3 linked regions of the Homo sapiens genome follow. The protein of the gene in region 1 interacts with the protein of each later gene in a pairwise test. Each region holds a gene or a part of one and is shown in the gene's direction. Other genes may lie near its edges.

Evidence for each region.
Region 2: the proteins of C19orf44 (region 1) and GOLGA2 interact in binary tests that used the Homo sapiens proteins (3 or more experiments, as listed by UniProt).
Region 3: the proteins of C19orf44 (region 1) and CDC37 interact in a two-hybrid assay, tested with the Homo sapiens proteins (one large-scale study listed by BioGRID and IntAct).

What each region holds. Positions count from the first base shown.
Region 1 is NC_000019.10:16,513,247-16,516,893, forward strand, and holds part of C19orf44 (uncharacterized protein C19orf44), read left to right. Parts: intron 1-1,250; coding exon 1,251-1,417; intron 1,418-3,647.
Region 2 is NC_000009.12:128,266,008-128,269,654, reverse strand, and holds part of GOLGA2 (golgin subfamily A member 2), read left to right. Parts: intron 1-1,130; coding exon 1,131-1,235; intron 1,236-1,494; coding exon 1,495-1,538; intron 1,539-1,657; coding exon 1,658-1,721; intron 1,722-2,137; coding exon 2,138-2,197; intron 2,198-2,380; coding exon 2,381-2,461; intron 2,462-3,329; coding exon 3,330-3,368; intron 3,369-3,634; coding exon 3,635-3,647. UniProt on the Homo sapiens protein: Peripheral membrane component of the cis-Golgi stack that acts as a membrane skeleton that maintains the structure of the Golgi apparatus, and as a vesicle thether that facilitates vesicle fusion to the Golgi membrane.
Region 3 is NC_000019.10:10,397,043-10,400,689, reverse strand, and holds part of CDC37 (hsp90 co-chaperone Cdc37), read left to right. Parts: intron 1-3,647. UniProt on the Homo sapiens protein: Co-chaperone that binds to numerous kinases and promotes their interaction with the Hsp90 complex, resulting in stabilization and promotion of their activity. Inhibits HSP90AA1 ATPase activity.

The sequences.
Region 1 (3,647 bases):
CCACAGGCACCTGCCATGAGGAGAGAAAAGGTGTGGATGCCCTTGAACCTTCTGTCTCTTGCAAAGAGACACCAATGTCACACAAAACAAGAGGGTGAAGAGTGATGCTTCTGTGCCCTGCACCCCAACAAGGCCACTTTTTTTGTTTGTTCGTTTTGAGACAGTCTCGCTCTGTTGCCCGGGCTGGAGTGCAGTGGCGCGATCTCCACTCACTGGGACCTCTGCCTCCTGGGTTCAAGCGATTCTCCTGCCTCAGCCTCCCGAGTAGCTGGGATTACAGGCACCTGCCACCACGCCCGGCTAATTTTTGTATTTTTAGTACAGACAGGGTTTCTCCATGTTGGCCAGGCTGGTCTCGAACTCCTGACCTCAAATGATCTGCCCACCTCGGTCTCCCAAAGTTCTGGGATCACAGGCCTGAGCCGCCCTGCCTGGCACAAGACCACTTTTGTTTTGTATGTTCCCCTTGGTGGCATTACATCAATAAGCCATAGTTTATTTCCCCTGAAGACATGTATTTGACTGATGCTGAGTTGCACAGCCTGGGTAGACATTCCCTTGCCTCCTGGGCTGAGTCTGTGTGGCCCTCACAAAGGCTCCAGTCCAGCCTGAGGCATGAGGGAGGGGCCCCAGCAGCCATCTTAGAGAGTTTAGTCTTTGTCGAGTCCAGTGGAGCCAATAAAGGCTTGTGATACACGTAGGGGTCCATCTGGTACCTACTATTTTTTTCCCTTTTCAATTTTTTAATTTTTTTTTTTTGAGACGGAGTCTTGCCCTGTCACCCAGGCTGGAGTGCAGTGGTGTGATCTTGGCTCACTGCAACATCTGCCTCCCAGGTTCAAGCGATTCTCCTGCCTCAGCCTCCCAAGTAGCTGGGACTACAGGTGTCTGCCACTACACCTGGCTAATTTTTTTTTTTGTTTTTTTAGTAGAGATGGGGTTTCACTATGTTGGCCAGGCTGGTCTCAAACTCCTGATCTCGAACTCCTGATCTTGTGATCCGCCTGCCTCAGCCTTCCAAAGTGCTAGGATTACAGGTGTGAGCCACTGTTGCTTAAACCCAGGAGTTCGAGGCTGCAGTGCGCTGTGATGGCACCGCTGTACTCCAGCCTGGGTGGCAGAGCGAGACCCTGTCTCCAGAAAAAAAAAAAAAGATTTCAGAGAGCAGCCTGGCACCTGAGCGGTGGGGGGGGGGCTGCAGAATTTGTGGGGCCCCAGCGAAGCCACCGAGTAACGCGGAGCTGGGTCAGCCCTGACCGCTTACAGCCCGGCCGTGCTGGCACTCCATGATGTGCTGAAGCAGCAGCTGAGCCTGACGCAGCAGTTCATCCAGGCCAGCCGGCACCTGCACGCCTCCCTCCTGCGCTCCCTGGACGCGGACTCCTTCCACTACCACACCCTGGAGGAAGCCAAAGAGGTGAGCGCAGCTCCCCATGGGCAGGGGCAGGGCAGTAGGGGAGCGGCAGCTCCCAGAGGCCGGGCCGAAGGGATATGGGCCGGGGCCTGGGCTCCAGCGCTCAGCCCAGGGCTGCAGGGATGCAGTGGGGCCATCACCTGTCCCTGTGGAGGGAGCCTCATTTCCTGCCACCCTGTGGCAAAAGCTGGTACAGGGTGGGGTGCTGAGCTCCTGCACCTTGCAGCCAGCCCCGCCTGGGCTGTGTGACCTCAGACTAAAGGGACCTACTGTTCGTGGCACTGTTTTCTCCCATGGGAGGGGTCCTGTCCCTTTCCCTGAGCCTCCTGAGACATCCCCGAGATGGGGCCAGAGGCGGCCCAGCTGTTCTCCTCAGCAATCACCCTCACCTCTTTTTTTACCCTCTAAGAATTTTTATCTGATTACCAGCCAGGTGCCGTGGCTCACACCTGGTGCTTTGGGAGGCTGTGATGGGTGGATCACTTGAGGTCAGGCGTTTGAGACCAGCCCGGCCAACGTGGTGAAGCCCCATCTCTACTAAAAATACAAAAATTAGCCAGGATGGTGACGGGCGCCTGTAGTCCCAGCTACTCAGGAGGCTGAGGCAGGAGAGTCGCTTGAACCTGGGAGGTGGAGGTTGTAGTGAGCTGAGATCGTGCCACTGCACTCCAGCTCGGGTGACGAGCAAGACTCCGTCTCAAAAAAACTTTTTAAAATCTGATTACCAAAAATTACGTGGCTGTTTTCTGAAAATCTTGTTGCAGAGATGTGTAACCTGCAAGTTCTCCTTAATTTCAGAGGTAACTATTACCAAGCTGATATATATACTCCTTCAGACTCTTGTATGAACCATAGTATGCGTATTTCTTTTTTTTAAAATTTTTTTTTGACGGAGTTTTGCTCTTGTTGCCCAGGCTGGAATGCAGTGGTGTGATCTCAGCTCACTGCAGCCTTCGCTTCCTGGGATCAAGCGATTCTTCTACCTCAGCCTCTCAAGTAGCTGGGATTACAGGTGCCTGCCACCATGCCCAGCTAATTTTTGGGATTACAGGTGCGAGCCACCATGCCTGGCCACGTATTTCTTTATAGAAATGGCATTATACTATATGCAGTCCTTTATGGTGATCTATTCATAAACTTTTTTTTTTCTTTTGAGACTGAGTTTCACTCTTGTTGCCCAGGCTGGGGTGCAATGGTGCAATCTCAGCTCACTGCAACCTCCGCCTCCTGGGTTCAAGTGATTCTCTTACCTCACCTTCCTGAGTAGCTGTGATTACAGGTGCGAACCACCATGCCCAGCTAATTTTTCATATCTTTAGTAGAGACAGGGTTTCTCCATGTTGGTCAGGCTGGTCTTGAACTCCCGACCACAGGTGATCCACCTGCCTCGGCCTCCCAAAGTGCTGGGATTATAGGCGTGAGCCACCGCCCCCTGCTTTAAACATTTTACATAACAAATTTTTCAGTGTTTATTTCTAAAAAGTGATGTTAAAGCCAGGTGTGGTGGTTCATTCCTGTAATCCCAGCACTTTGGGAAGCTGAGGCAGGGTGGGTCGCTTGAGCCCAGGAGTTCATGACCAGCCTGGGCAACATAGCAAGACTCCATCTCTATTAAAAAATACAAGAAAACTAGTTTAAGTTTAGCATAGTGGTGTGTGCCCGTAGTCCCAGCTCTCTGGGAGGCTGAGGTGGGAGGATCACTTGAGCTGGGGAGGTTGAGGCTGTAGTGAGGGAGAAAGCGGGACTCTGTCTCAAACAAACAACCATAATGCAATAATACACAAACCAAATTTACTAAGTATCAAGGAATATCCAGTGTTGAGATTTCTGCTTGTCTGATTTAAAGTTGTGTGTTTTGTTCCGATTTGGTAATTCGGATCCAAAGTCCATACTATCCGATATGTCCTTTGAGCCTCTTAATCTAGAGCAGCGACCGGTTCTCAATGCTGAGCGGTTGGGGATCCCCTGGAAGCCCTGTGAAAGCGATGCTGGGCCCGCAAGCAGGCGGGGTGGGCCTGGAGCTAGGCGTTTCTCCCACATGCCCCGGGACGCTGCTTTGGAACTGTGCCGAGTCCCCTGCATGCCAGGCCTCTCGTTTCCTTGTGGTTTATCTGCTGAAGAGGGCAGGTTGTGAGTCCCACGGGTCTCTACAATGTCAACTTTGCTCATTGCAGCCCTCTGGGGGCTTTGAACTCATGCCTCTGTTGGGCGTCCATCAGCCCATCCGATGCAG
Region 2 (3,647 bases), on another chromosome or scaffold:
CAGATATTAGAAGATCTCTAGAACCAGAGGCTTGGGCGAAGAGTAAGGTCAGAGCCTGGAGAGAGGCTGGGTGGGGCTCTGATCAAGCAGGTAGGTCCAGTTGGGGGCAAGGGAGAGGCTCCACATGACCCCAAGTTCTGAATCCTAGGATTGTCCTCAGGTACTATTCCCAGGAAAGAGGCCCTACAACTTCCAAGTTGCCAAGAGCCACAGGGAAGATGTCTTACCTCTGTTTTCTTGGGTGGTTTCTTGGCTGGGTAGATGTTTTTGGAGGTAAGAGGTCGGGGTGGGGGTGTTGGCCATGGTTTATCCTCTTTTTACCTCCAGAGAGTTGGAGAGAGTCTTCTAGTTGGGCAGCTTTTTTTTTTTCCCCCTGAAAAGGCCTGAATCAGAAACACAGCCAGTAGGCCAAGTGCAATGGCTCACACCTGTAATCTCAACATTTTGGGAGACCAAGGTGGATCACTTGAGCCCAGGACTTTGAGACCAGCCTGGGCAAGATGGCAAGACCATGTTTCTATAGAAATTAGCTGAGCATGGTAGTGTGCACCTATAATCTCAGCTACTAGGGAGGCTGAGGTGGGAGCATTGCTTGAGCCCAGGAGGTGGAAGCTGCAGTGAACTATGATTGTGCCACTGCAGGGGAGAAGGGAAGGGAGGAAAGGAGGAGACAGGCAGATAGCTACATTGTGCATTGCCCAGACAACTACTTCCTCATCACCATCCTCTGCCCAGTAGGGGCCCAGTGAGGGTCACTCTGCAGCACAGACTGGCCTTCTGGAAGAACAGTGCCTTTCTCCTCCCTGACTTTGGCACACCTTCCTCCTGCCTGCTGTGGCTGCCACAGGTCAGAGCCTGCTGCTGTCTTTTGCTGAGCTCCAGGGAGAGCGAGGTCCTCGTGTTCATGAAGGAGGCCGTGCAGCCCCTGCTTTGAGCTTTGGCCATCTGAAATGCTGCCTAGCAGCCCAAGGCCTGGGCAACCAATCCACACCCCTGAGTGGCTCCTAGCATGTGTGACTGTCACTCTGACTGCAGCAACACCTGTCCTACCTGTTCCACACCCTTGTGTTCATAGTACTGAGGCACCTCTCCCGCATGGCCCCCTAACCCCCTGCTCTGTTCTGTGACAGACACCCAAGGACAATGCTGCTACTCTACAACCATCTGATGACACCGTGTTACCTGGCGGTGTCCCTTCCCCTGGTGCCAGTCTCACTAGCATGGCGGCATCTCAGGTTCGTGCCTCCTCCCCCTCTGCCCACTGCCCTCCTGTACCTATTATGCATTATCTTCTCCTTTCACAGGCAGCTTGTTCCCTAGGGTCAAGGGCCCTTCCTGGGGACCGGGCCGGGGGAAGGCTCAGACTGGGCTTTTTTCCTTGAGGCCTGGGGAGATTGAAGATTGTTAGAATGAGTTTGGGAGCTTGACTCACCCCATCCTGGGTGATTCTTACCAGAAATTGAATGACCATCTCACACGTTTCTTCCCAAACAGAATCATGATGCTGACAATGTCCCTAATCTCATGGATGAAACCAAGTGAGTGTCTCCTGTTGGGGCAGCAGTCTCTAGGCTGAGAGAGTCAGGGAGGCCACTGCCCATGACCTTCTTTCCCATTGAGCCACCTGCACCCCTGACCCCTGTGTCTCCATCCCTAGGACTTTCTCATCAACCGAGAGCCTGCGACAACTCTCCCAACAGCTCAATGGTCTTGTTTGTGAGGTACCTCAGGAACTGAGGCCGAGAGCGGGGTGGGGGGAAGGGAACTATGATAGAAACTGAAGCAGGGATTCACAAGAGAGAGGGAAGATCCTGGGACCAGCCAATGTGCTGGGCAATGTTAAGGAAGTCGCCTTTTCCCTGAGCCTTCTCCCTTGAAGTTGTGCACATGAAGGAGTTGGACCCCATGACTGGTTGCATCATTGTATCCTGCTGCAGAAGCACTGGATGAGAGCTGCTCGGGAGGAAAGGATGGTGGGGAAATAAGAACCATGAGAGAAGTTGGCACAAAGGGGTTACGGGACAGAGGGTCCAAGTTAGAAAAGAAAATGTTGCCAATTGCTGGGGAAGAAACGAAGTTAGAGGGCTTAGACACTGAGGGGACAGAACATCTCCATGTGCACTCTCGTCTCTTATAGTCTGCGACATGTGTCAATGGGGAGGGCCCTGCATCGTCTGCTAACCTGAAGGATCTGGAGGTAAGAGGCCCTGGGCCGTGGCCCAGTGACCCTGCAGGCCAGCCCTCCAACCTCCTCCCACAGCGGGGGCTGGGTGCCCCTCTGCCAGCTGAGACAGCCCACACACCCCCCAACCCTAATGATTGCTCTCTCTACCTCTCCCCCCAATCCTCCTCCAACTCCTCCTCTCTGCATGCGCCTCAGAGCCGGTACCAACAGCTAGCGGTAGCCCTGGACTCCAGCTATGTAACAAACAAACAACTCAATATCACGATAGAGAAATTGGTAAGAGTCCAGTGGGGTCCCCTGATTCCATGCTGCTAATCCTGGGCTCCAGTTTCCCCTTGGGACCCTGAAGAAAGGGGCAGGGGGCCCCTGGTGCCAAGGGCGAATGGGGAGCTGGGGGGCCCAGGCCTCAGCTGGAGGGACCCCAGAGCACGGAGCATGCAGCATGGCTCTTCTGTTGCTGCCCTCTTTGCCTACTCTCTCTTCTCTAGACACCCCTGCTCGAGTCCTTGCCACACACGCCCTGGGGTTGTTGCCTCTTGGGGAAGCGCTAGCCTGACTGGTTGTCAGGAGCCCTGTATTTCTGCCCTGACTCAGTCCTTAATTTGCTCTTTGATTTGGGACAAGCCACCTCTCCTCCTTGGGCTTGCATTTCCTGAGGAGGTAGAGTTAGAGAGTATCAAAGGTCTCTTAGCTCTGAGAGTCCAAGATTTAAAGGCCCATTAGAATGTAAACCTCAGGGCCAAGGGCTCCTGTCTGTCTTTTTCTGTCTGGTATCCCTGCTATTAAGAACCGTACCTGGCCTGTGTGTGCTCAGCAAATGTTTGTTGAATGATTACACCTTTCTAAATCACAAACTGGCAGAGGGTGGGCTTTTCTCACACTCCATCTCTAGAGGTTTATGTTACTGTCCTTTCAAGAGAATCGAGATTCAGACTTTCAGTTCTGTGGCTGTGGGCAAAAACCAACAAAGACACAAATCCCCTTTCCTTGAGAGCCTGAGGAGAGTTTACCAGTTCGTGTTCCCATTGGGTCTGAGAACTTTGCCTTTAAAATCCATTCCTGGCCCCTGCCTACCCGTTCCTGGTCTGGGGAATAGAGTTGAGGGGGCCACCCTCAGTCACCTTCCTTTGACTCTTCCCCACAGAAACAACAGAACCAAGAAATTACGGATCAGTTGGAAGAAGTAACGTGATTTCTTTGTTTGCTCACAACATGACTGCTGGGTTTGGGGGGCATTCAAATGTAGAGGCCTCAGTCTCGTCTCACCCACTCCCAGCCTGGGGAAGAAGGCTCACCCCCCCAGATTCCACCCCATCCCCACAGGGTCCCTGATAACCTGGTCCCATGGGTGGGCCTGTCCTGGGACATTGGTGGCATTCTGGGGGCATGTCCCTTGCTGTGCCGTCTCTGCCTCCCCCTCGTAAGAGCTCTGTCTTCCTCTTCCTATAGGAAAAGAAAGAAT
Region 3 (3,647 bases), 6.1 Mb from region 1:
GGCCTTGCTTTGTCACCCTGAGATGGCAGTGGCGCCATCTCAGCTCACTGCAACTTCCACCTTCCGGGCTCAAGTGATCCTCCTACTTCTGCCTCCTGAGTAGCTGGGACCACAGGTACACACCACCATGCCTGGTTGATTTTTGTACTTTTTGGTAGAGACAGGGTTTCACCATGTTGCCCAGGCTGGTCTCAAACTGCTGAGCTCAGGCAATCCACCTGCCTCAGCCTCACAAAGTGCTGGGATTGTAGGTGTGAGCCACCAAGCCTGGCCTAAGACCTTGTCTCTTAAAAAAAAAAATTTCAAAGTTTCCAGAAGCGGACAAATGAATCCCTTTTCTCAGCCCCAGCTCGCCGGCTCTCCTGCCCAGAGACAGCTGCTGTTAGTGGTTTCTTCTAATGAGTTGTATGACATTGAGATTCTGTGAGCCTCAGTTTCCCTAACTGTAAGGCAGGAGGGTAGTGACATCTGTGGGCCCTGCTTGCTGGGGTGGCTTCTCCCCTGCCCAGCCTGCTACAGCCCCTCCCCGATAGGAGGTGTAAAGCCCAGGCTGGGCAGGCTGCCGCCCCCGCCAACTCCAAGAGGCCTTTTTTAGCTGCGGCCTCCCTGGCAGTTGTTCAGAGGACACAGGGGAGACTGGTGGCAGCCCAGCAGCGGATTGCAGGGTGGTGGGCAGGCTCCAGGGTGACACAGGCCCATCGTGGAGAAAGGGAGTTGGAGAGGCCACAGCTGCTTTTTTTTTTTTTTTTTTTTTTTTTAAGACGGAGTCTCACTCTGTTGCCCAGACAGGAGTGCAGTGGTGCCATCTCGGCTCACTGTAACCTCCACCTCCCAGGTTCAAGCAATTCTCCTGCCTCAGCCTCCCGAGTAGCTGGGACTACAGGTGCGCGCCACCATGCCCGGCTAATTTTTGTATTTTTTAAGTAGAGATGGGGTTTCACCATGTTGGCCAGGCTGGTCCCGAACTCCTGACCTCATGATCTGCCCGCCTGGCCTCCCAAAGTGTTGGGATTACAGGCATGAGCCACCACACCCAGCAACTTTTTTTTTTTAAGAGATGGAATCTCACTATGTTGCCTAGGCTGGTCTCAAATTCCTGAGCTCAAGTGATCCTCCCACCTCGGCCTCCCAAAGTGCTAGGATTATAGGCATGGGTCACTGTGCCCAGCCTGCAGCTGCTGTTTATCTCATGAGGTATAGCTTTTTTTTTTTTTTTTTTTTTTTTTCAGACAGGGTCATGCTCTGTCGCCCAGGCTGGAGTGCAGTGGGGCGATCTCAGCTCACTACAACTTCTGCCTCGGGTTCAAGCGATTCTGCCTCAGCCTCTGGAGTAGCTGGGATTGCAGGCGCCTGCCACCACGCCTGGCTAATTTTTGTGTTCTTAGGAGAGACGGGGTTTCACCATGTTGGCCAGGCTGGTTTCAAACTCCTGACCTCAGGTGATCCACCCGCTTCGGCCTCCCAAAGTGTTGGGATTACAGGAGTGAGCCACCACGCTCGACCACGTAGGCCTTCTTGACCCCTTATACATATAGGGGAATCCGAGGCTCAGGCTGGCTGTGTCAGTCCCCTGGGGTATTAGAGTAGGGGCCAGCTCTGCCTGGCCCTGCCTTAGAACCTGGGGACACAGCCTCAGATAAGGCACAGGAATGAGTCAGCAGACCATTCAGGTGGCAGTGACAAGGACGGAGATGGTAACAGTGGGACACACCTACTGAGGGCTGTTTTGGAAGCATTTTCCATAGAGTTAGTCATTCAGTTCTCACGGCGATCCTGTGAGACTCCATTTCACAGAGGGGAAGACCAAGGCTGGGAAAGGTTTCAGTGACATGGCCAAAGTTCCATCTCCCGTCAGTGGCACAGCCGGGTGCTGTGACCATGTAGTAACAACCACTCCCAGTTATTGAGCGTGTACTCTGGGCCAGAAATTAAACTAAGCATTTGAAGGACATTTCCTTTTTGAGGCCCCAGAGTGGTCCCCAGAGAGAGAGAGAGATTGTTCTCTTGCACAGATGGTAATGACCCTGGCCAGTACAGGAAGGGTGCGTGCTGAGGGCCCACATGGCTCGGGACATTTTACTCTAATCATCTCCTTAGTTTCTTCCAATATGAGCTTGTGCAGTCAGCATTGTTGACTGTTTGACAGATGAGGAAACTGAGGTTACAGGAGGTTAGGGGATGGCCCGGGATACCCAGCCGGTACATGGTGGCTGTGGGCTAGGACCCAGGGGCCGTTGCCCCAAGGCTGTCCTCCAGCACCCTCACCACATCGTCAGATGGTCACAGGAGGTCCTTTAGGGATCAGTGGTGCCTCAGGCAGGGAGCATTTGGGGAAGGCTCTGTTGAAGCTGAGTTTTGGGTGCAAAAGCAGGTAAGGGAACCGCACATGCAGAGGCCAAGAGGCAAGACAGAGCCCGTACTTTCGGGGAACGATGAGGGCCAGTATCTGCCTGGGACCCAGGACCAGGATGCCAGGATCAGAAGTCCCATCTGAATTCAGACCCCCCAAGATGTAGTGGGGAGGACTCTGGTCACGTGGTCAAATGCATGGGCTTCACAGGCCTCCCTGGTGGCAGCTGTGCCTGGATTGGAGAGGGTCAGCAATTGAAGGTGGTGGCACGTTTCAGGGTTTCAGGGTTTGATTAGTGGCTCTGGATAGAGCAGCCTCCACTGAGGTTCAGGAGAGGTGATGGTGGAGCCACGCAGGGGTCTCAGGAGAGGCCTGTACAATCCGATGGGGCCCAGATGGAGGTCTGAGGGAGACAGGGAGTGAGGCGGGGACCAGGAGCCTGAGGAGATGAGGCACTGTTATAAGGAGAAAGAGGAGTGCCTGGGGAGTGACATCTGGGGCTGGGGTGAGCGGGAAGCAGGTAGACACCAAGCTGGGGCTCAGGAGGGCATGCTGGGCTGGAGACAGAGCTAAGAGGGCCTTGGCAGTGATCCTGGGGCAAGGTTATGGGTGGAACAAAGAAACATCTAGAAGGGGCCCTGGTGCAGTGGCTCATGCCTGTAATCCCAGCACTTTGGGAGGCCAAGGTGGGTGGATCACTTGAGGTCAGGAGTTCAAGACCAGCCAACATGGAGAAACCCCGTCTCTATTAAAAATACAAAATTACCCAGGCGTGGTGGCGCGTGCCTGTAATCCCAGCTACTAAGGAGGCTGAGGCAGGAAAATTGCTTGAACACGGGAGGCAGAGGTTGCAGTGAGCCAAGATCACGCCACTGCACTCCAGCCTGGGCGACTCCGTCTCAAAAAAAAAAAAAAAAAAAAAAAGCCAGGCTTGGTGGTTTGTGTGCACCTGTAGTCCCAGCTACTTGGGGTTGAGGCAGGTTGAGCCTGGGAGATCAAGGCTGCAGTGAGCCATTATCACACCACTGCACTCTAGTCTGCATGACAACAAGACCTTGTTCAAACAAAACTGAACAAAATAAAAACAAAAAAAAAAACAAGCATTTGCTGAGCCCGTGCTTTGCACCAGGCCACGTTCCTGGTTCTGGGAACAAAATGGCGAACACGTTCCCATATTTAGAGAGCAGGGCTTCATTCATTGGAGGGGGGCAGTACCCAAAACGTGATAAATAATTGTCATATGATGTTAGTGGTTGCTGATGTTGAGGAGGCAGGGAATTCCAGACAGGGGCAGCGG